Homo sapiens: one gene and its partners. The protein of the gene in region 3 interacts with the protein of the main gene of each other region in a pairwise test. Each region holds a gene or a part of one and is shown on either strand. Other genes may lie near its edges.

Region 1 (2,758 bases), on a different chromosome or scaffold from region 3:
ACCTAGAAGTTTATACAGTCTAGCAGAGGAGCCAAGACCACAGGTAAATGTGAGCACTGCTGAAGCAGAAGTGGAGAATGGAAGCAGGAGGTCAGGATTTCTAGCCAAATGTCAGCTGGGAGTCAGAGGTGTGTGTGGCATAGCATTCCAGGCAGAAGGAATCTGGTAAACTAAAATGACAATAGGATATGTCTAGGGATTCAGTTTAACTGTTGCATGGTTCTCAGACCCAAACTAAGCCCTCCTTCTCAGACCAAGTAAAATGGCCTCAGATGTAATTCAGTTTTGAACTTCATACCTTTTAAAAACTGAAGTTCGTCCTTCAGTTTTGAATGTCACACCTTTTAAAAGCTGAGGTATACTTCCTAATGATTATAAACACCAAATTAAAAAGGAATCCATTTAGTTAGCTATTTAGGCTTAAGCACAGAAGGTTCTTAAAAGAACCCTATATTGCTCATTGATTTCTAAAAGAAAATGAAACCCACCAAGACAAGAAATGTGTTGCTGACCTTCACTTTTATTTAAATATAGTGATCTTTTAAGAGAATAAACAAAAAATACTTTACACAGCAAATATTTTACATAAATGTAAACATGCATGTCTACTTCATAATTAAGCAAAAAAACTTTTAGGCACAAGATTTTAAAAATAAAGAATGAGACAATGAAACCAAGACTGGAATAACAGAAGTAACAAAAACTCACATTTCCTAACTCTTCAATTGGTCTTGTCTTCCAACCTATTGGTTAAGGCCTGAGTTTCAGAAATCCTACCTTCCTTGCCAAATAGAAACATCCACTTTGGCTGTATATAACATTATCCACATAACACACTAATTCTCTTTCAAAATAATGTAATAAATATACCATTCATACACACACACACACACACACACACACACCCTGCTGAACCAGCCTCTCAAATAGGAAAATAAGGATTTTGGAATTTTCAAGTTTTCCTACAACCAAAGCACATACACACACATTAACACCTTACATAGAAAAAATGATTCTGCTACAGAAATAAAATCGTTAGTGAGTGGCATGATTACAAACCTCTAGTTCATTTGTATTAAGTTTCTTCAATCACAACTTTACTAAGGCTTACTAAGCGCCTCTGACACTTCAGATTTAATTAAGTTTTTCATCTCATCTAAATGACCCACAGTACAGTAGACATTGTACAGCACAAAAAAAAGGCAATTTTAATAATTCAGTTAAAGACTTCTAAATCATGAAAGTCAGCATGGATACTTTCAGCTGTCTCCAAATGCCTGGAATGTTTTCCTATGTCTATCCTCTGCACTTCACTGGCTGGGTAGTCTTCTCTGCCTTCTACCCCACCAGGCTACAACCATTTGAATGTCCATTCCTGTGGATACCCCAGGGAGGAGATGAGAATGACAGTCCCTGCTTTTTTTTTCCCTTTTTCTTTTTGTAGAAACAGGGTCTCGCCATGTTGCCCAGGCTGGTCTCAAACTCCTGGACTCAAGCAATCCTCCCACCTCAGCCTCCCAAAGTGCTGGGATTACAGGCATGAGTCACCACAGCCAGCCCAGTACCTGCTTTTAAGGAGCTCATACCGACCAGAGTTCAAGCAAAAAAAAAAAAAAAAAAAAAAGGTCAGTATGTACACACAGGGCACTCCATGTGGGTTGAAAAAAAAGACAAGAGTCCACAAAGATGGTACCCACAGAACCTCAAAAGTGGGGTATGGAGGGAGAGAAGGAGAATGAGAGAAGGCACAGAGGCAGGAAGAACAAGTCCGGTTTGGCTGGCAGGAGGGCATCTGTGAGAAGCCATCTGTGAAGCCAAATTCTTGATTTCTAAAAAGAAAAGATTGCTTACTCTGGTGGGTAAAGCTGGAGGGCAGAGGGCAGAACCACCAAAGGCTTTGTGCAGAGAACAAAATTGAAGCCGTGCTAGAGAAAAACCATACAGTGTTGGGCAGGACAGATGACAGGACAAACGGTCTGAAGCTCAGGAAGCTTGACTCACCAAGCCAGTGCCACGTGCAAGCATTTCCTATAGAAACACGTCTTGACCCAACATGCCAAAAACCATAGTTCTGTCTACAGAAATCAAGGCTTTCAGAAAAAAGTTGGGGAGGAGAGAAAGAGAGAGAGGCTTAAATAGATATTTTTAGTTCAAGTTCCTGGAACCTGCCCCAGTTTGAGCAAGTTAAGAGCAGTGAAACAATTCCTACATCCAGTAACAATTCAAGTCTCCTGATCATGACCTTGTGAAACCTTCCCTGAGCTGTCATTACCAAGGAATTATAAAGCAATTATCAATCCACTATAAATAAGTTCCTACCTGCCATTAAATCCACCAAAATCTCATGATGGGCTGAGAGCCCAGCACGGGGTCCTAGCGTAGACCTATTACCTACACTAGGGTAGGTGGTGTGAGCATGCTGCTGGGCAGTGGCTCTCTGGGCTCACTATGATGATGAAACAGTTGACTCTATGAAGTTTAACTCTAATGAAAGCCCCTATGACAGACCACCTATTTCCTTTCTAAGTCCAGACTGCTTCCCCTCCACTAGCTGGGGAGGGAGAGGCCATATGAGTGGAGGGACCTGTGGAGGAAAAATTATTATTACTACCTTGATGTCCGCTGAACCAAAGTGGATGGAAATTTCTCAGGACATATTCATCCAAACTACAAAAACAGGTTACTCCATACTGATTACAGGATGATTTATCACACATTCATTAAATATAGAACATTGACTAGCAACCAGTTTCCTCCA
Region 2 (3,500 bases), on a different chromosome or scaffold from region 3:
AGAGGCGGAGGTTGCAGTGAGCCGAGAGCACACCACTGCACTCCAGCCTGGTGACAGAGCGAGACTCCGTCTCAAAAAGAAAAAAAAAATGGATGGGATGCTTACTAAAGTGCTGTTCGGCATATACAGAGAGGTCATGGGAGGTCATCAAGAACCATCTCAAGGACTGGAACCTAGGAAGGTGATTGTAGGGCTAGGAAAGGTACGCATGTGATCAGGCATTGGTACAGGCCGTGGCATAGAAGAAACTTCAGCCTAGAGATAGGGCAGGGCATGGAGGGTAGGTGGTGACCTGTTTCATGTGGTTGAGGGAGAGAACCTGGTTTAGGAATTGGCATGTCATGAGGTTTATCCCAAGTCTTTCACAGCCAGTGTTGATGATACAGAAGCGAAATAAAAGTGATAGCACCTTTCTGTTACTCATTTTTCTGGAATGATTATTGGGTGCCTCCTGTGTTTCAGGCACTGTGCTAGTGCTGGGGATGCGACAGGGATCGGACCCAGTCCTTGCCCCATGGTGCTCTCAGCTAGATGAGCAAGACAAACAAAAACAAGCAAATAACAAATAATTACAAACTCCTAGGACTAGTGAGGATACAAGACCAACACATACAAATCAACTGCATTTCTCTATACTCACAGTGAACATGTCAAAACTAAAATAAAAAACACTACCATTTATTGGCCGGCCGCAGTGGCTCATGCCTGTAATCCCAGCACTTTGGAAGGTCGAGGCAAGTGGATCACCTGAGGTCAGGAGTTCGAGACCAGCCTGGCCAATATGATGAAACCTGGTCTTTACTAGAAATACAAAAATTAGCTGGGCGTGGTGGTGGGTGGTTGTAATCCCAGCCACTTGGGAGGCTGAGACGGGAGAATCACTTGAATCTGGGAGATGCAGGTTACAGTGAGCGGATATTGTGCCACTGCACTTCAACCTGGGTGACAGAGTGAAACTGTCTCAAAAAAACAAAACAAACAAAATGGCTGGGCGTGGTGGTTCACGCCTGTAATCCCAGCACTTTGGGAGGCTGAGGTGGGCAGATCACAAGGTCAGGAGATCGAGACCATCCTGGCTAACACAGAGAAACCCCATCTCTACTGAAAATACAAAAATTAGCTGGGCGTGGCAGTGTGTGCCTGTAGTCCCAGCTGCTGGGGAGGCTGAGGCACGAGAATGACGTGAACCTGGGAGGCAGAGCTTGCAGTGAGCCAAGATTGCGCCACTGCACTCCAGCCTGGGCGACAGAGCGAGACTCCGTCTCAAAAAAACAAGCAAATAAACAAACAAACAAAAACACAATGCCATTTATAGTTGTTTCAGAGAAATGAAATACTTGGGTATAAGTCTAACAAAGCATGTGTAGAATCTGTATGCTGAAAATTTTTAAATTGTTGATGAAAGAGATCAAAGATGACTCGGATAAATGGATGACATGTACTTTGTTCATGGATTGGGAGACTGAACATAATGAAGATTTCAATTGTCCCCAAGTTGATCTGTAATTTAACGCAGTTCCTATTAAAATCCCAGCAAGTTTTTTTTTTCTATAGACATAGACAAGCTTATTCTAATAATTACGGGAAGACCAGTTTTACCTAGATTAGCTAAAACAATTTGGAAAAAGGATAGCTGGAGGAATCAGTCTACCCAGGGTTAAGACTTGCTATATAGCTACATAATTAAGCCTAGTGTGGTATTGACCAAGGGACAGATGGACACAGATCAGTGGAACAGAATAGATAACCCAGAAATAGACCTCCACAAGTATACACAACTAATTTTTTTTTTTTTGAGACAGAGTCTTGCTCTGTCACCCAGGATGGAGGGTACTGCTGCTATTACAGCTCACTGCAGCCTTGACCTCCCTGGGCTCAGGCAATCCTTCCACCCCAAGCCTCCCGAGTAGCTGGGACTACAGGTGTGGGACACCATGCCTGGTTATTTGTATTTGTATTTTTTTTTTTTTAGACGGAGTTTCTCTCTCTCTCTTTTTTTTTTTTTTGAGATGGAGTTTCGCTCTTGTTGCCTGACCTGGAGTGCAATGGCGTGATCTCGGCTCACCGCAACCTCCGCCTCCCGGGTTCAAGCGATTCTCCTACAGGCACATGCCACCAGGCCTGGCTAACTTTTTTGTATTTTTAGTAGAGACGGGGTTTCTCCATGTTGGTCAGGCTGGTCTCGAACTCCTGACCTCAGGTGATCCACCCGCCTCGGACTCCCAAAGTGCTGGGATTACAGGTGTGAGTCAACGCGCCTGGCCTGAGTTTCTCTCTTTTTGCCCAGACTGGAGTGCAATGGCGTGATCTCGGCTCACTGCAACCCCCGCCTCCCGGGTTTGATTCACCTGCCTCGACCTCACGGGTAGCTGGGATTACAGGTGCATGCCACCATGCCCAGCTAATCTTGTATTTTTAATAGAGATGGGGTTTCACCATGTTGGCCAGGCTGGTCTTGAACTCCTGACCTCAGGTGATCGCCCGCCTCGGCCTCCCAAAGTGCTGGGATCACTGGCGTGAGCCACCGCGCCCAGCCTGTTTGTATTTTTTTTATAGAGACAGGGTTTCATTATGTTGCCCAGGCTGGCCTCAAACTCCTGGGCTCAAGCAATGCTCCCGCCTCAGCCTCCCAAAATGCTGGGATTACACACAATTGATTTTTGACAAGGGTACAGAAACAATGTGTTGGAGGAAAGACAGCCTTTGAACAAAGGGCGCTGGAGCTATTGGACATCATAGGCTAAAAATATACAATAATCAACCTAAACCTTATACCTTATACAAAAATTGAAAATGGATCATAGACTTAAATGTAAAACCAAATTGTCTAATTTTTAGAACAAAACAGGAGAAAATCTAGGCAAAGAGTTCTTAGATTTGATGCCAAAAGTATGATCCATGAAAAAATTTTTGATTAATGGGGCCTAATCAAAATTTAAAACTTTTGCTGTGCAAAACAGAATGAAAAGAGAAGTACAGAATGGGAAACATAGTTACAAGCCATGTATTCAACAAAGGACTTGTATCTAGAATGAAGAAAGAATTCTTAAAACCCAACAATAAAAAATCAAACAATTCAATTAGAAAATGGGCAAGGGCTGGCTCACACCTGTAATCCCAGCACTTTGAGAGGCTGAGGTGGTCAGATTGCTTGAGCCCAGGAGTTCAAAACTGGCCTGGGCAACGTGGCAAAAACCCTGTCTCTACCAAAAAAATACAAAAATTAGCTGGGTGTGGTGGCACATGCCTGTAGTCCCAGCTACTTGGGGGAGCTGATGTGGGAGGATCACCTCAGCCTGGGAGGTCAAGATTGCAGTGAGCTGTGACCATGCCACTGAATTCTAGCCTGGGTGACACAGTGAGACGTGAGACCCTATCTCAAAAAAAAAAAAAAAGCCAGGCGTGGTGGCTTACGCCTGTAATCCCAGCACTTCGGGAGGCCAAGGCAGGTTGATCACCTGAGGTCGGGAGTTTGAGATCAGCCTGACCAACATGAAGAA
Region 3 (3,500 bases):
CTTTGGAGGTGGCCAGGAAGCCCATAGGAGGAGGGAATGCTCAGTGTGTGCCCTGAGAGCTTTGCCACTGTCAGAAAGCACCTGACAGGAACAAGTTTGATTGTATTTGACACATGCCGGCACTACCACAGAAAGTTTTAGCAACAGATAAGAGGGGACATCTGTACTCTCAACTTCTTTTTTCATACTTCCTATTGAAGTTTTCATCTCTACTCTCAGGCATTTAATTTCTAAGACTGCTGTTTATTTTTAATTGTCTTAAAAAATAGCATCCCATTCTTGTTTAACAGATGATATAGCTTCTTTTACCTCCTTGAGGAAGATATTAATAATAGTTTTTTAAAACTTTTCTTCTCACTGCACAATCTCTTTTCTTTGTCCTCCTTTTGTTCCTGTTTAAAATGATAGCCATTTATCTTTTTCTCAGGTGTCTGGTGATGTGTGGTTGTCTGGTCATGTTTAACAGTGGGATTTATAATGCCGATTGGAAGCTGTGAGCATATGGGTGGAGCTTCTGAACTTTTCTGCAGTGTGAGCTGGTGCATCAATTAATTGGGAACCCATAGGTCAGTATCTTCGACTGTGTTGTCTTGGGTTGTTCAGATTGTCTGGAGAAGACTCACCCACCCTTATTTCTGGAGGGATGAAGGCCTATAAACTCCGGAAACAAAGTAGAGATAGAGGGAATGTCTTAGAGCTTGTAGGTATGTGTTTATCTAATCCACATGTTTTCCAGACAGAACCTCCATCCTCAATTGTGCCTGATGTTTCACCTCCAGAGATTCTTTAGAAAATAAATGTCCAGGCCAGGTGGGGTGGTTCACACCTCTAATCCCAGCACTTTGGGAGGCTGAGGTGGGCGGATCACCTGAGGTCAGGAGTTCGAAACCAGACTGGCCAACATGATGAAACCCCGTCTCTACTAAAAATATAAAAATTAGCTGGGTGTGGTGGCAGGTGCCTGTGATCCCAGCTACTCAGGATGCTGAGGCAGGACAATCACTTGAACTGGGAGGCGGAGGTTGCGGTGAGCTGAGATTACGTCACTACACTCCAGCCTGGGTGACAGAGTGAGACTCTGTCTCACAAAAAAAAAGAAAAGAAAAGAAATGTCCAGTCTCTACTAGGGAAGGGCATTTTTCCAGAGGCAGGGAATAGGGGAGAGGGTCCAGGGATCTAATTTCTTATTATTATTTTTATTTTTTTTTAGTTTTGAGATGCAGTCTTAACTCTGTCGCCCAGGTTGGAGTGCAATGGCGTGATTTCAGCTCACTGCAACCTCTGCCTCTGGGGTTCAAGTGATTCTCCTGCCTCAGCCTCCCAGGTAGCTGGGATTACAGGTGCCTGCCATGACACCTGGCTAATTTTTGTATTTTTAGTAGAGACAGGGTTTCACCATGTTTTTCAGGCTGGTCTCGAACTCCTGACCTTAGGTGATCCACCTACCTTGGCCTCACAAAGTGCTGGGATTACAGGCGTGAGCCACCAAGCCTGGCCTTCTTCTTATTTTTAATATAAAGCCAGATTTGTTGAGTTATAATTTACATAGAACAAAATTCACTTGTTAGTAGACAATTGTATGAGTTGTGACATAAAACTATCTCAGCATATAACTCATATGCTGAGTTATGTGGTAAGTATGTGTTTAAATGTATAGGAAATTGCCAAATTGTTGTCTCAGGTGGTTGTACCATTTTATTTATTTTATTTTATTTTATTTTATTTTATTTTATTATTTTATTTTATTTTATTTTATTTTATTTTATTTTATTTTATTTTATTATTTTATTTTATTTTATTTTATTTTATTTATTTTATTTATTTTTGAGACAGAGTCTCGCTCTATTGCCCAGGCTGGAGTGCAGTGGCACGATCTCGGCTCACTGCAACCTCCACCTCGTGGGTTCAAGTGATTCTCCTGCCTCAGCCTCCCAAGTAGCTAGGATTACAGGCGTGCACCACCACACCCAGCTAATTTTTGTATTTTTAGTAGAGATGGGGTTTCACCATGGAGGCCAGGCTGGTCTCAAGTTCCTGACCTCAGGTGATCTGCCTGCCTCAGCCTCCCAAAGTGTTGGGATTACAGGCGTAAGCCACTGCGCCTGGCCTGGCAGTACCATTTTAAATTTTCACCACTAATCTATGAACATTCCAGTTGTTCCTCATTCTTGTCAACACTTGGTATTTTCAGATTTTTATTTTTTAATTTTAGCCATTCTAATAGGTATGGATTTAATTTCCATTTTTCTAATAGCCATGATGCTGAGCATCTTTTTGTGTGCTTGCCATTTGTGTATCTCCTTTGGTGAAGTGTCTTTTCAAACACTTTCCCTATTTTTATTGGGCTGTTGTGTTACTGAGTTTTCAGAGATGTATGTGTATTCTGGATTTAGGTCCTTTATCAGATACGTGTTTTGCAAATGTTTTGTCCTCATCTAGTGGCTTGTCTTTTCATTGTGACTGTCTTTTGAAGAGCAGATTTTTAAAATTTTGGTGTGGCTAATAAATTATTTAGTTGTATGGATTATGCTTTTGGTTTTGTGTCTAGGAAATTGTTACCTAATTCAAGGTCACAAAGATTTTTCTCCTGTTTTCTTCCAGAAGTTTTAAAATTTGGGGTTTTACATTTAGGTATGTTATTAATTTTTGTATAATTTTTGTATGTTAGGCAAGGTATAGATTGAAGTTCTTTGTTTTTGCATATGGATGTTCAATTTTTCCAGCACCATTTGTTGTAAAGGTTATTCTTTCTTGATTGAATTGAATGTATACCTTTGTTGAGAGTTCACAAAGCTGTGGTCTGTTTTTGGATCCTCTAATTTTATTTCACTTATCTCTTTGTCTGTCGCTCTGTCACTTGACCAGTACCACACTCTTTATGGCCATAAATGTTGAAATCTAGTACTGCAATTCCCCAACATTTCTCTTTCTCTAAATTGTTTTGTCTGGTCTAGTTCCTTTGTTTTTCCAAATAAATTTGAGAATTACTTGTTGATTTCTGCTAAAATTTCAACTTGGATTTTGGTTGGCATTGCATTGATTATATAGATGAATTTGAGGAGATTTGACATTTTAACAATATTGAGTCTTCTAGTCCATAAATATGGCATATTCTCTCCATCTATATGTCTGTGGATCCTTATATCTGTGTTTTGTTGTTTTCAGCATAGAAATCTTGCACATAGTTTCATGAGATTTATACTTAAGTGTTTCATGTTTTGGTGCTATTATATAATATATGGTAATTTTTAAAAAACATTAGATTTTTAATTTTTTGTTATAAGTATGTGGATACAATTGACCTTTGTATGTTGAATTTGTATTCTGTGACTTTGCTAAACTCAATTAGTTCTAATAACTTTTTTTCTAGTTTCTTTGGGATTTTCTGTATAGACAATCATATCATCTGCAAATAGAGACAGTTTCATTTCTGCCTTTCTAATCAATAAACCTTTTATTTCTTTTTCTTGCCTTACTGCACAGGCTAGGATCTCTAGTAT
Region 4 (3,500 bases), on a different chromosome or scaffold from region 3:
TTGGCAGTTTTAATTCTGCTGTCTCAATTCTTAGTGGGTGCAAAATGATAGTGGGTTCAACCTTCCCTTTATTCGTTCAAACAGTCCCTCTGCTTTTCTCCCTGTGCTTTTGCCTCTGGTGGTAGTGACAGTGTCAGTGTGTTCTGGGGGAAGGTAGCATGGGTGATGATGTCCGCCTCTTTTTTTAAACCTCCTGCAACTTAAACTGTGCCCTCAGTCAAATTAGCTATTTTGTCAAATCAACCACATGCTGCAGTATCTCTAGTCAACTACTGCTGGCTTTCAGCTTTCCACAGCTGAGACCCGTGTCCAAAGTTGTATTTTTTGTACTTTTTATAGATTTTTTTTCAATTTTTTGCATTATGGCTCTTCTCCCCTGATTCACCTGCTGATGCATTCATCTCCTGCCCTCCTCCTGGCAGGGGCAATCCAAGGGTAGAGTCCATGACTTTGGTGTCAGGCTCTGGCAGACTCTAAATTCCAGGTCACTGAGTTAGCATTGGTGATCTTCTCATTCTGTTTGATGTACAGTAGGCAAACTTTATAAATTAAATGATAAACCTCCCTCAAAGCCACTTGAAACGCTCAGCAAGGTCTATATTTCATGGCCCTGTGGGAGATGTGACAGCCATGATCTTGTTAGCCTTTGGGTGGGTGTTCTGTGTGGTATCACACTGCCCTGGTGGTCTAATGAGGAGCTGGACCCTCCTGCAAGCGCCTGCAGTACCAGGCAGCCTGCAGGAAATGCACTGTAGAGCTGCAGCCACCCACCTTGTGTGTAGGGAAGGAGAAGGTGAAATTGACTGAGGATGTCAAGTAACATGGAGGAAGTGTGACTTGGGGGATTGACTGAATGGGCTGTAGCAAAGTATAGGGCTGGAGAGTTCAAAGGAGTTTAGAGAATTTTTTGTGCACTGAAAATGGGTGCAGGAGGACACAAAATGGGATTTGAAGAAATCCATTTATTACGGTGTTTAGAGAAGGGGCAGACATGCTCATACCTATAATATATAATTTAGGACCATAATCCTGTTAGCATCAAATAGGACAGGTTGGAAGGGGGCTTGACTGACCACTTCAGAGGGGACTTCAGTTTTCCAGTCAAAGCCGGTGCAGTTTTGAAATAGGGAACTCATAATGGAAATAGGAGGTTAAATTGCATGGGTAGACTTGACTGAATTTGGCAGTAATTGGACATGGAGGGTGAAGAAGAGGAAGGTGATGATGAGTCTGGACACATTGGGCTTGAAGTGCTTGCAGGTCTTTCAAATGAAGAGATTCCATGGTCAGGTGGTCTCTGAGGGCTGGAACTCAGGAGGGGGCATGGGCTAGGGGCATAGGTGGAGTTGGTGGCTGAAGCCCTGGAAAGGATCAACATTACCAAGGAAGAGAGTGTAGAGAGAGAAGAGGTAAAGAGAGTGCCTGGAAAATGCGTGCACTTCCGGAGGAGAGGGAAGAAGAACCAGTGAGAGACGCTGAGAAGAAGCAACCACAAAGCCAGGAGGACGAGGAGATTGTGGTGTCATGGAAGTCAATGTCGCTTGGTGGCTTTCAGTCCCTAAGATGTGGCTTCTCAGGTGTGCTACAGCAGGTCCTTCAGGTTCTGTCCTGGTCTCCTCACTGGGCCCCCAGTTGCTTGTGTGTTGCCATTGCCCCTGGAGAGATCAGCACCTGCTGCAGGCCCTGTGTCCTCCACCAGTAACTGCTGCTACCACCACTCCGGGCTTATGGAACCGTCCCCAAACACTGCTGAGACCAAGCTGTAATTTCAACAAGATCTTTCTGAAGAGTTGAGGACAAAGAGGTGGGGAAAAACCCCCCAAAGAATTCTAGGCCAGAAGAATAACTTACAAGTACTTCTAGATGTCGCTATTCTCAGAGCTCCCAGGCAAGCTATGGCCTTGAGGTCCCTCCCAGGTCTCCTCCAAGTCTTCTTTACCCACTTCTCCTGGAGGTGCTCCAGGCCAAACTCACACAGTGAAGGAGGATGGTTTTCTCCCTTCTCTCTGAGGTCCACCTTCCAGGTCTTCTTTCCTTGATAAGGGTGACTGCTTCCCAAGTTGACTAAATGGGAAAGGTCACACACACCTCGCCTCCCACCACCATTGTTTGATGTTCAGTAGGAAAACTTTATAAATTACAAGATAAAACCTCCCTGGAAGCTAGAGAGGTTTTAGAATAGGGTGGTGTCCTATTCTTGCAACCTGGGCAGGACAGATAAGTAACAGAACAAGAGTACAACATCAGTACAGTCTGGGGTGTACCATCTCAACAACACATGTTGGTTGCCGGCCATCCATTCTGGAGGCTTTTCCTGACTTAATCATAGGGATGAGCTGAAACTCATGCCTGTGTATCCTTCTTGCAGTCCTGGGGCCTCACCTCTGGATCTCCTGCAATCAGCACCTGAGCTAGAATCCACATAACTCTCCAAGACAGCCATGTGGGAGAAAGTCATGTGATTTTGAAAGATTTGGTTTCACACATATGCTCTCAATGTAGACCCATTTCTCAACTGAGACCCATTTCTCTAGACGAATGCACTGTCCTCTAGGACTTTCTGTGATGATGAAAATATTCTGTATCTGTGCTATTCGATACGGTGGCCATTCGCCACATGTGGCTACTGAGCATTAGAAATATGGCTGGTGAGACTGATGAACAGAATTATTAATTTTATTATATTTTAACAATTTAAATGGCCTTATGTGGTTGGTGACTGCTGTATTGGACTGCCCTGGCCTAGGTTATTTCTAAGGTCTCCTGCATCTTGAAGCTTCTGTAACTATACTGTGTATAGCCTCGTTGGTGACAAAACTTTATCTCTTATCTCATCTGTTGTTTTTTTTTTTTGAGACAGAGTCTTGGTCTGTTGCCCAGACTGAAGTGCAGTAGTGTGATCTCGGCTCATTGCAACCTCCCTCTCCCAGGCTCAAGCTATCCTCCTGCCTCAGTCTCTGGAGTAGCTGGGACTACAGATGTGCACCATCATGCCCGGCTAATTTTTGTATTTTTTGTAGAGACCGGGTTTTGCCATGTTGCCCAGGCTGGTCTCAAACTCCTGAGCTTAAGTGATCAGCCAGCCTCAGCATCCTAAAGTGCTGGGATTACAGGCATGAGCCACCATGCCTGGCCTATCTCATCTTTTTTCTTTGCTTTTTTAGAGAGAGGGTCTGATCCTGTCACCCAGGTTGGAGCATTAGTGGCATGATCATAGCTCACTGCAGCTTTAAACTCTTGGGTTCTAGTGATCTTCTCATTTCAGCCTCCTGAGTAGCTGAAACTCTAGGCGTGCATTACCATGCCTGGATAAGTTTTTAATGTTTTGTAGAGATGGGAGTCTTGCTATGTTGCCCAGTCTGAACTTGAACTCCTGGTCTCAAGGAATCTTCCTGCCTTGGCCTCAAAGTACTGTGATAACAGGCATGTGAGCCACCGTGCCAGCGCCAAATCCTCATCTCTTAAGGGTAGAATTCAGTTCAATTTTTGGAAACAATCAA
Region 5 (3,500 bases), on a different chromosome or scaffold from region 3:
AAGGTCCTAGTGAATCCAAAACCTTAATGCAGGTGTTCTAACTGTGGGGCCCCTGCTCTGAACTCCTGGGCTACATCAACTGCCAATGCCACTGAGGGTCAGAAACCCCTTCTGAGTAGCTGGTTGTGGTGGCAGTGGGAGGGTGGGGTTTCTCAGGTTGCACTGCCACGTTCCCCATTGATCTGGACTGAACCGCCCCCCACCAGACCCTTACCCTGTGGGGTTGCTGTGCTGGCACAAGAAGAGCAGAAGGAGGTTGCATCTGGAAGCCCACAGCAAGCTCTCCATGTGTGCGGCAGGCTGAGACCTGACTACCCTCATCCTGGAGATTTCAGTCCAGTGAGCCTCCTCCCACAGAAGGGACCTGGGACCTCAGACAGACCAGAACTACATGGATACGCTCTGTGGCTGAAACTGACAGCAATGCCAAATGGGATTTCTTACGTGGAAAATCTGGTTGGAGATTTTGGCAGAGGTCCGGAAATCCCAGGCAATAATGGTGCGGTCAGCTGAGTCCCGGGTGGAAGCGTCTGTGCTGCTCAGGAACTCGGAGCCTTCCCGGAGGAACAGGATGTCCAAGGTCTGCTGGATGGTCGCCTTGTAGCTTCTCATCACCTGCAAGAGCGGACACCGGTCATGCTGGCAGGCCTGGCAGCACGGACAGGCGCCTATGCAGGGAAGGCCAAGGACCCAGGGGGCAGGCAGGTTTAGTGAAGTTTATGCTGGGCCACACACACCCAGGCTGAGCAGCACCCACAAGCCATATATGGAATCATGGACCCTCCTGCCCCATGCCCAGTCCAGTGTCTGTCAGCTTCTCAGCCCCCCTGCTCTATTGCCACATGGGTCCAGAGAGGCATCCCTATCACCCCTTGAGAGCAGCAGGATCCCAGGGAAAGCGCAAAGGGAAGGGCCTTGACTCGCCAAGGGCACCTCGAGAGCATATTGACATCCATCAACACTGGGGTCATGCTTTGAGTGGGTCCTGCTTCTGAAGACGTCACATAATTCACAGCTTGCAAAGTCCCAGATTGTTGTCCCAGAGGAGCCACAGTAATGCAGGAGCAAGTGTGCTTGGGGACAGACCATAAAGCCAGAATCACAGGACATATTTTAGCTTTAACGACACTTTGTATTGTTTTAGCATCATCACCGATACTTCACAGTCTGCTGTCTCATAAACTGACTTTATTAAGTATTGAGCAGTTGTTTTGCTTTCTTAGAGGATTTTATCACATTCAGCTTCTGCTCTCAAGTATCCAGCTCTGGTGAGGGGATGGAGAAGGGTCCCAGTACCAGGACCAGCAAGTAGCTCCACTTAACAAACTCACAGAGGACAGGACTTTAATGACAATATGGAAATAACATGCTGGGCACCCACGCGCAGCCATGGAAGCGCAGCAAGGTCTCAAGTTGGTCGCAGGGGCCGGCCGGTCCCTTTACCAGTTCCTGGGCCGCCACCATGTGGCTGCAGCATAAACAGTTCAGTCCCTGGGCCCCGCCAGCTCAAAATGAGCCACCTTGACTTTTTAATTGGAGTTCATACCTTTCAAATTTTGCAGACATATTTTCTGTCATCCTCCTTAAAATGTATACATCAAATTCACATTAAATGTGTCACTCCATAATTTCAGTTTAGGTTAGAGGAGGAGGAGGTTGAGGCCCATTCTCTGGATGAGGTTCACTGAGGCCCAGGAAGAGGTACGGATTTGCTCAAGGTCACAGGGCCAGGGCATGGTGGAGCCTCTTCCGACCTCCACGGCTTCCCTGGGACCCACGGTTCATTCTCCTGCTGGTCAATTCCTGCCTCTGTAATTCCTGGGGGAGGGTAGGCAACAGATGACCGCTCTTCTCTGAGCCTCTTCCAAAGCAACCCTCAACCAGGGAGATTTCAGAGTGGGCCCCCTGAAGCCTAAAGAATGATCCAGGGGTGGAAAAAAAAAGCCTTCTGAATGCAGAACAGGGAGACAAGCTGCCCCTCACGGCACGGCTGCCTGCCTTCCTCCACGCACTGGATTCTGCATGCCTGTGCCTGCTCTATCCTCCCACATGGCCTTGATATCACAGCCCCCACCAGCCTCAACACTTTGATCCCTAAGAGGCTGACCCAGGGAAAGGATGAGGAAGATGACGGCCCTCCCTGCCACTCGCTGAGTGCCCGTTAGGTGCTGGGCCTTGGCTGGGGGGTTCACATAAGTTATCTCATGACAAGAGCCCCATAGGTAGCTTCTCTCGGTGGGCATGAAGTCTCAGAGACAGGCAACTTGCCCAGGAGCCAAGAACTACCTACATGCCCCTGCCAACACACCACCTGCCTCCCAAGACAAACTTTTTGAGGAGAACCAAAACAGTTGTTCCGTACATTTTCTGAGAATGGATGGAAATGGCCCAATTCATTAGGGTGTCATAAAAGTGAATGGCTGGGAAACAAGCCGTGTTATGGGCGATCCCTGCCAATAATGTGGCTGCAAGTGGAAGGCTGGCCTTTGAAGTGATCGCCACCGAACATGATTTACTCGCCTTCACAACTGCTCATGCCCCAGGAAAGAGCAAAGGAGCCATTTGTGTGTCTAGCTGGTGGGTTTTATGGCAACCTTAATTACACCAACAGCTGGCATGGGACGCTGCTACCCGAGCCTAACGAGCTGGATCCAAAAGGGAGTCTCACTCAGACTCTTCTGGCAACTGCGGGCCCCTGGTAGAGATGCAGGGACATGGTCTTGGGGAAAGCAGAAGATCGATCATGACACATGCAGGGGTTATGTCCCTACAATCTGCCCACCACTCGGCCCACCAGCAAACCTGGGGGATGCTGGGCCGCTGCTGACTCGTCCAGAGCAGCCTTGGGTTCCTGCCACTTCCAGAGTGCACGGGGTTGGGGGTGGTCACTGGGCTCCAATCTTGGCCCACTACAGATTTACTATGTGCCTGGGGAAGGTTCGTTCCCTTCCTAGGTCTAGTTTTTGAGTCATCAACACGAGGGCCCCAACCACACCTCTGAGCCTCTAAGTACTCCTGGTCCTCAGAAAGAAGAAGGACTGGCGGATGCACCCAGCTATCCCTCACCCCATGCTGCCAGTCCTCTGCACCCAGACCTGAAGGACAGGGGGTGGGGAGGCACTGCTCTGGGCTCACACGCAACCCTGTGCTCCCTTAGCTGCCCACATCAGCCACCTGCCTACGCCACAGGACTGTGAGCTCCTGGCACAGACGCCCTGCTGCCCACATTTCTGGGTCACCCTTGGCTAGCACTGGGTCTGCCCCTGCAGGCATCAGTAAGGTGTGTCAAATTGATGCTGGATAAGTGAGTAAATGCATAAATGAATGAGTGAATGAACAAAAGGTCGACTACTTTAAAAGTAGCAATCCAGGGTCCTCCGGCTCCCAGCAACATCCTGGCATGCAGGGCTGAGGCAACACACAAAAGCCTTTGCCACTGGCTCTCCCAGGACCCCCGGGTGAGATGACATTCACTCACAGGTCCTTCCCCTGGCCCTGAT
Region 6 (3,500 bases), on a different chromosome or scaffold from region 3:
ACACTGACATTTATCAGACACTTATTATACACCGATGTTCTTCCACCTTGGTTCATTGGTACTTGGGGCTGGAAAATTCTTTGTATTCAGGGGATGCTGTCCTGTCCTGTACACTGTGAGATGTTTAGCAAAATCTCTGGTCTGTATTTACTAGACGTCAGTAGTACATTCCTCCCAAGTAATGACAACCACAAATGTCCCCAGACACTGCCAAATGTCAATTAAGTGTCAAAATCATCACCAGTTGAGAACCACTGCCTTATACTATAAACTTATTCTATTTTTCTTTCCTTTTTTTTTTGAGACAATCTTGCTCTGTCACCCAGGCTGGAGTGCAGTGGTGCCATCTCGGCTCACTGCGACCTCTGCTTCCCAAGTTCAAGCTATTCTCCTGCTTCAGCCTCCCAAGTAGCTGGGACTACAGGCGTGCACCACCATGCCCGGCTACTTTTTGTATTTTTAGTAGAGATGGGGTTTCACCACGTTGACCAGGCTGGTCTCAAACCCTGACCTCAAGCAACCCACCCACCTTAGCCTCCCAAAGTGCTGGGATTACAGGCATGAGCCACCACACCTGGCCCCACTTTCTTTTTATTTTATTTATTCATTTATTTTATTTTATTTTATTTTATTTTATTTTATTTTATTTTAGAGATGGGGTCTCACTATGTTGCTCAGGCTGGTCTTGAACTCCTGAGTTCAAGGGACCCTCCCACCTCAGCCTCCTGAGTAGCTGGGACTACAGGCATGTGCTACCACACCTGGCTAAAATGTTTACTGAGCATTATTTACAGCAGAACACTGCTGTCTGATAGAAATACAATGTGCCCAGACTGGCCAACATGGTGAAACCCCACCTCTACTAAAAATACAAAAATTAGCTGGGCGTGGTGGCGCATGTCTGTAATCCCAGCTACTCAGGAGGCTGAGGCACGAGAATCACTTGAACCCAGGAGACGGAGGCTGTGGTGAGCCGAGATTGTGCCCCGGCACTCCAGCCTGGGCCACAGAGCAAGATGCTGTCTCAAAAAGAAAAAAAAAAGAAATATAATGCGTATAATGTGAGCCCAATGAGCCGTCAAGTTTCCTAGAAGCCACATTACATATGTAGAAACAATAAGAATTTAGTAATATATTTCATTGACCCAAGACATATCCCACTCTTATTTTAACATGTAATCAACATAAAAATATTATTCATAAGATATTTTACACTGGTTTTTGTTGTTTGTTTTTGGACCAAGTCTTTGGAACCCTGAGTATATTTTACATTTACAGCACATCTTGGTTCTGATCAACCACATTTCAAGTGACTCAGTAGCCACATCTGGCTGGTGGCCACCATATTGAATAGCACAGGTCTACAACATAGCTAGGATGGATGGATGGATGGATGGATAAATGGATGAATGGGTGGGTGAATGGATGGATGGATGGATAAATGGATGAATGGGTGGGTGGATGGATGGATGGATGGATAAATGGATGAATGGGTGGGTGGATGGATGGATGGATGAATGGGTAGGTGGATGGACAGATAGATGGATGGGTAGATGGGTGGGTGGGTGGATGGGTGGATAAGTGGATGGGTGGGTGGGTGGAAGGGTGGGAGGATGGGTGGGTGGGTGGATGGATGGGTGGATGGAAGGGTGGGTGGATGGGTGGGTGGATGGATGAGTGGGTGGGTGGATGGATGAGTGGATGAGTGGGTGGGTGGATGGATAAGTGGGTGGGTGGATGGATGAGTGGATGAGTGGGTGGGTTGGTGGATGGATGAGTGGGTGGGTGTGTGGGTGGATGGATGGGGGGTGGGTGGGTGGATGGATGGATGGGTAGACGAGTGGGTGGGTGGATGGGTGGATAGGTGGATGGGTGGGACGGTGGGAGGGTGGGTGGATGGATGAGGGGGTGGGTGGGTGGGTGGATGGATGGATGGGCGGGTGGATGGATGAGTCGGCGGGTGCATGGATGAGTGGGCGGGTGGACGGATGGGTGGATGGGTGGGTGGGTGGATGAGTGGGTGGGTGGGTGGATGAGTTGGTGGGTGGGTGCGAGGGTGGGAGAGTGGGTGGGTGGGTGGATGGATGAGTGGGTGGGTGGATGGGTGGATGGATGAGTGGGTGGGTGGGTGGGTGGAAGGATAGATGGGTGGGTGGGTGGATGGACGGACGGATGGGTAGATGGGTGGGTGGGTGGATGGGTGGGAGGGTGGGTGGGTGGATGGGTGGGAGGGTGGGTGGGTGGATGGCTGGGTGGGAGTGTGGGTAGGTGGATGGATGGGTGGGTGGATGGATGGATGGGCGGGTGGATGGATGAGTGGGCGGGTGGATGGATGAGTGGGCGGGTGGATGGATGAGTGGGCGGGTGGATGGATGGGTGGATGGGTGGGTGGGTGGATGAGTGGGTGGGTGGGTAGGTGGATGAGTTGGTGGGTGGGTGGATGGATGGATGGGTGGATGGGTGGGTGGATGGATGGGTGGATAGGTGGATGGGTGGGTGGGAGAGTGTGTGGGTGGGTAGGTGGGTGGGTGGATGGGTGGGTGGGTGGGTGGATGGATGGGCGGGTGGATGGATGGGCGGGTGGATGAGTGGGTGGATGGATGAGTGCGTGGTTGGATGGATGAGTGGGGTGGGTGGATGGATGAGTGTGTGGGTGGATGAGTGCGTGGGTGGATGGATGAGTGGGGTGGGTGGATGGATGAGTGGGGTGGGTGGGTGGGTGGATGGATGAGTGGGGTGGGTGGATGGATGAGTGCGGTGAGTAGGTGGGTGGGTGGATGGATGGATGGATGGATGGATGGATGGATGAATGAATGGGTGGGTGGAAGGATGGATGAGTGGGTGGATGGATGGGTGGATGGATGAGTGCGTGGGTGGATGGATGAGTGGGGTGGGTGGGTGGGTGGGTGGATGGATGAGTGCAGTGGGTAGGTGGGTGGATGGATGGATGGATGAATGAATGGGTGGATGGATGGGTGGATGGATGGATGAGTGGGTGGATGGATGGGTGGATGGATGAGTGCGTGGGTGGATGGATGAGTGGGGTGGGTGGATGGATGAGTGGGGTGGGTGGGTGGATGGATGAGTGCAGTGGGTAGGTGGGTGGGTGGATGGATGGATGAATGAATGGGTGGGTGGATGGATGGATGAGTGGGTAGATGGATGGGTGGATGGATGGATGGAAGGCTGATTGAGACAGGATCTCACTCTGTTGCCCAGGCTGGAGTGCAGTGGCGTGATCATAGCTGACTGTACCCTGGAACTCCTGGGCTCAGGCAATCCTCCTGCCTCAGCCTCCTGAGTAGCTGGGACTACAAGCCCATGCCACCACACCCAACCATTTATTTATACCATGACCTTCCCTGCATCCAGTCATTTAATCCTTACGACACTTATTATTATACCCCTTGTACAGATGAGAAAACCAAGGCCTGGAGAGCTGAGATAACTTGTCCAGGATAAAAATGTCCAACATGAACTTGAGTTTCCCTCACACATCA
Region 7 (3,500 bases), on a different chromosome or scaffold from region 3:
TGTTTAAAACACTAATGTGATGCCAGCACCATCCCTAGAAATTCTAGTGATTCTGTGGAGCCCAGGCATCAGCAATTTTAAGACCTCCTCAGGTGATTCTAAAACGCTGCCATGTAGATGACCACTGGTCCAGAAGTTTTTGCCAAGATTCCTTCTATTGCTTGTTTTAAGGACCTATGGTATTAAAGCTGAAAATGCATCTTAGACATTTTGCAAAGGTGGAGCCCTCATCTTTACCTTTACAGCAGAGGTTTTTAACTTTGGATGAATCTATTAATTCCCCTCAATCATATACAAACTGTTGATTGAATATGAATATGTATATGTATTTGTATTTTTCAGGAGGGAGTGTCATCTGCCTTTATTAGGTTCTCAAAAGATTTAAGAATGCTATTTTAAAAGCAAATATTAGGTTTCTGACGTAATAAATTTAAGAAAATTAAAGAATGAATGGAAAATAAATTTGGTCTCATCAGCACCTTTGCTATAGTTTGGATTTGATCACACCCACTGCCACCTAGTGGCTATATATCCTTATTGCAGGTTTAGTTCAGATCACATTGCCCATCCTCTGAAAACTGTTGAGCAATAGATGTGCAGATTTCAGATCCAAGCATCAAAGTAAAAGCTTTCTCTGGGACTAGGATTAGTACCAGTAAGAGGCTATCTGGAAACACTCACTACAAGAGATGACTTCCCAAGCTGTACTTGTTAAGGAGACTGTCCACTCAGATATTTTGGATTCATACCCTTAACTGGGTAAGGATATTACGGTTTCCTAGTTCTTACTGTTGTTAACTATTTGCCTTGGCTTGAATCTTGTTTTTCTCTCTTACTAATCATGTGACCTTGGGAAAGTTACTTAACCTTTCCATTCCTCACACAAAATGGGGATAATATAAGTACTTCTAAGATTGCTGTGGAGAATAAATAAGAAAATATATGTAAAAGGCTCAGCATGACTCTTGGCACAGAACAAGATTCCAATAAATATTTAGGTTATATTACTGTTATTACTGATTTTTAAATTATTATTAACATCTCAGTGACCTTGTTCAAGTTACTAAATTTCTTTGAGCTGCATATATTGACCCGTAAGACAAGGAAAATAAGCCCTGCCATTTTCTTCACAGTTATAGCTATGATAAGTACAAAAAGTAAAAGGCATATTGTTATTTTATGGCAACTCATCATACATCCAGGGAATCTACAGAGCACAGGAAAAGGTCACTCAAAAATACAGATGTTAATTCTCACCCTCAGGAAGGAGCTCTTTGAGATCCCAATAGTTGAGCAGGCTCTACATTGGGGTACAGTAATTTCTTGTCACATATCTAGCATCCTACTCAGCCTAAAGTTTCCCACCACGTGGGCGAATGGATGGCCATACCCTGCTATGGATGCTGCAAGCTCCTTTTCCGGTAAGAGAATTATACCAACCACTCACTAGGTCACAAGTGCCTGAAATTGTCAGTCCTCATCCAGCCCAGACACTGACCGGCAGCAGTCTTGCCCATTCCAAACTCACCCCAGGGAGAGAGTCCCAAAAATCTTTTGCCAGCCTGCCTGTCCATGAGAGTCCCTCATCACACCATCATGGTCCACAACCTGCCCCACCAGAGCAGAAACATCCTGAAACCTCTCACCAGCCTCAGCAAAGAATCAAGGTGCCCAGCTGTTACTTACCTGGAGTCTGCTTGGCCGTACGCACAGGAGTGTAGTGGTTTTTGGAGGACGATCTGACCGGCGTGTTCTCTTTGGGAGAGGTATCGATAGCCGAGATAGTTTCTCTTTCACAGTGTGCTATGGGGATTGGTCCCTGTTGTCTTAAGATGTCAGCCAGAGCCCTAAACAAGGAGGAGATCACATAATGAGATTCACTGAGCAGGTGTGCACAACCATGAGGGGAGTTGGCTTACTTTCATATGCCCTTTGATTTACAGAGATGCAGGAAGAGACAGAGACAGCATTCAGCTCTCAATAGTCAGCTACATCTGGTGTTGGTCTCAGGGGGGACACAGGGTAAAGGTTACCATGCCTGGAGGTACAGACTAAAAGGCTGGGACTACGGTTTCTTTCTTTAATTTATTTCACATCAGTAAACTCTGAGCCCTTTCAAAATACTGGCTCCCCAAATATCCACCTATGCCAGGCAGGTATCTATAGCAGCTGGCCAGTGGAATGCCACTATGGTGAAGGGCTGAAACCATCGGCCTCAAATTCAGCAGCAGGTCACTAATATCAGGGGACCACTTCATCATCCAAAACTACACACTGAGTATCATGTACTAGATACTGGAGACCCAAATAAGTACAACACACAGCTCCTGCTATCAAGGAAGGGTGTGATTGAGCTGCAAAGACAGGACATAGAGATGAAAAGATAAAAATCAAAACACGTGGATGGTGCAGACATTGAAGACAACTGGAGTTTAGAGGAGGGAGCAATCACAAACACAGGGGAAAAATACACAGGAAGAAAGAGAGACAGGCAGAGACTCTGCCATAGCAGGAGAGACCCGCCCCCCTGCAAGAGGTCCAGTTACTCAGAGAAAGCAGCTTTTGTTAACTCAGCGCCTAGCTTCAACAACCAAACATGCATTGACTGACGATTCAGCATGCATCAGTCATTGAAGAGACACAGATCAATGGGACCCAATTCCTGCCATCTAGGGGTTCATAATTTAGGGGGAATCGCTCTCCTATTTGCTTTCAAACAGGATGCCCTCTGTGGGTGTGACATGTGAGATACCCACTGGCAGTGGGAAACAGATGAGTGTGGACAGCCACAAGAAACTACACCTGGATACTGTCACTTCAGATCCAGGTCCCCAGTCCTCAATGCACTCCCGTTTTGCACATGCCAGGCAAAGACTATTCCATCTTCTCGAGGGGTGTCTCTGATGGGTGGGGCCCTGCCCACCCCAAGGCTTCCCTCTTACCAGGAGTCCAGCTCCAACACTCTGCCCCCATGAAAAGTGACAACTGCAGCAGTTTAAAAATGCATCTGAGTAAATTGTGGGGGAAAGAATAGTTTCTTCACAAAATGGTCCTGGGACAACTGACTGGATCGCCACATGAAAAAGAAGGGAGTTGGATCCTTACCTCACACCATATAAAAAACTAACTCAAAATGGATTATATACCTAGATATTAGTCCCAAAACTGTAAATCACACTGAGATACCTTTTCATACACACTAGGATAGCTATAACCAAAAAGCCACATAATACCAAGTATTGGCAAGGAGGTAGAGAAATTGGAGCCTTCATACACTACTGGTGGAAATGGAAAACCCTGCAATCCCTTTGGTAAACAGTTTAGCAGCTCCTCAAAACTGCAATGTTCCTTAAACGCAGAATTAACATATGGCCCAGCAAATCTACTCCTAGGTATTCCCAAGAACAATGAAAAATATATGTTGCATTAAACTTGTGTACAAAGGTTCATAGCAGCAGTATTAATAACAGCCAAAGGGTAGATACAACCCAAAAGTCCAT

What was found.
Region 1: the proteins of HSF2BP (region 3) and EAF1 interact in binary tests that used the Homo sapiens proteins (3 or more experiments, as listed by UniProt).
Region 2: the proteins of HSF2BP (region 3) and RAD51D interact in binary tests that used the Homo sapiens proteins (3 or more experiments, as listed by UniProt).
Region 4: the proteins of HSF2BP (region 3) and FAM124B interact in binary tests that used the Homo sapiens proteins (3 or more experiments, as listed by UniProt).
Region 5: the proteins of HSF2BP (region 3) and WDR25 interact in binary tests that used the Homo sapiens proteins (3 or more experiments, as listed by UniProt).
Region 6: the proteins of HSF2BP (region 3) and CAMSAP3 interact in binary tests that used the Homo sapiens proteins (3 or more experiments, as listed by UniProt).
Region 7: the proteins of HSF2BP (region 3) and SHISA6 interact in binary tests that used the Homo sapiens proteins (3 or more experiments, as listed by UniProt).

What each region holds. Positions count from the first base shown.
Region 1 is NC_000003.12:15,440,356-15,443,113, reverse strand, and holds the end of EAF1 (ELL-associated factor 1), read right to left. Parts: 3' UTR 501-2,758; downstream 1-500. UniProt on the Homo sapiens protein: Acts as a transcriptional transactivator of ELL and ELL2 elongation activities.
Region 2 is NC_000017.11:35,109,861-35,113,360, reverse strand, and holds part of RAD51D (DNA repair protein RAD51 homolog 4), read left to right. Parts: intron 1-3,500. UniProt on the Homo sapiens protein: Involved in the homologous recombination repair (HRR) pathway of double-stranded DNA breaks arising during DNA replication or induced by DNA-damaging agents. Bind to single-stranded DNA (ssDNA) and has DNA-dependent ATPase activity.
Region 3 is NC_000021.9:43,533,989-43,537,488, reverse strand, and holds part of HSF2BP (heat shock factor 2-binding protein), read left to right. Parts: intron 1-3,500. UniProt on the Homo sapiens protein: Meiotic recombination factor component of recombination bridges involved in meiotic double-strand break repair.
Region 4 is NC_000002.12:224,392,108-224,395,607, reverse strand, and holds part of FAM124B (protein FAM124B), read left to right. Parts: intron 1-3,500.
Region 5 is NC_000014.9:100,522,985-100,526,484, reverse strand, and holds part of WDR25 (WD repeat-containing protein 25), read right to left. Parts: intron 616-3,500; coding exon 445-615; intron 1-444.
Region 6 is NC_000019.10:7,598,863-7,602,362, reverse strand, and holds part of CAMSAP3 (calmodulin-regulated spectrin-associated protein 3), read right to left. Parts: intron 1-3,500. UniProt on the Homo sapiens protein: Key microtubule-organizing protein that specifically binds the minus-end of non-centrosomal microtubules and regulates their dynamics and organization.
Region 7 is NC_000017.11:11,261,713-11,265,212, reverse strand, and holds part of SHISA6 (protein shisa-6 isoform 1 precursor), read right to left. Parts: intron 1,848-3,500; coding exon 1,687-1,847; intron 1-1,686. UniProt on the Homo sapiens protein: Involved in maintenance of high-frequency synaptic transmission at hippocampal CA3-CA1 synapses.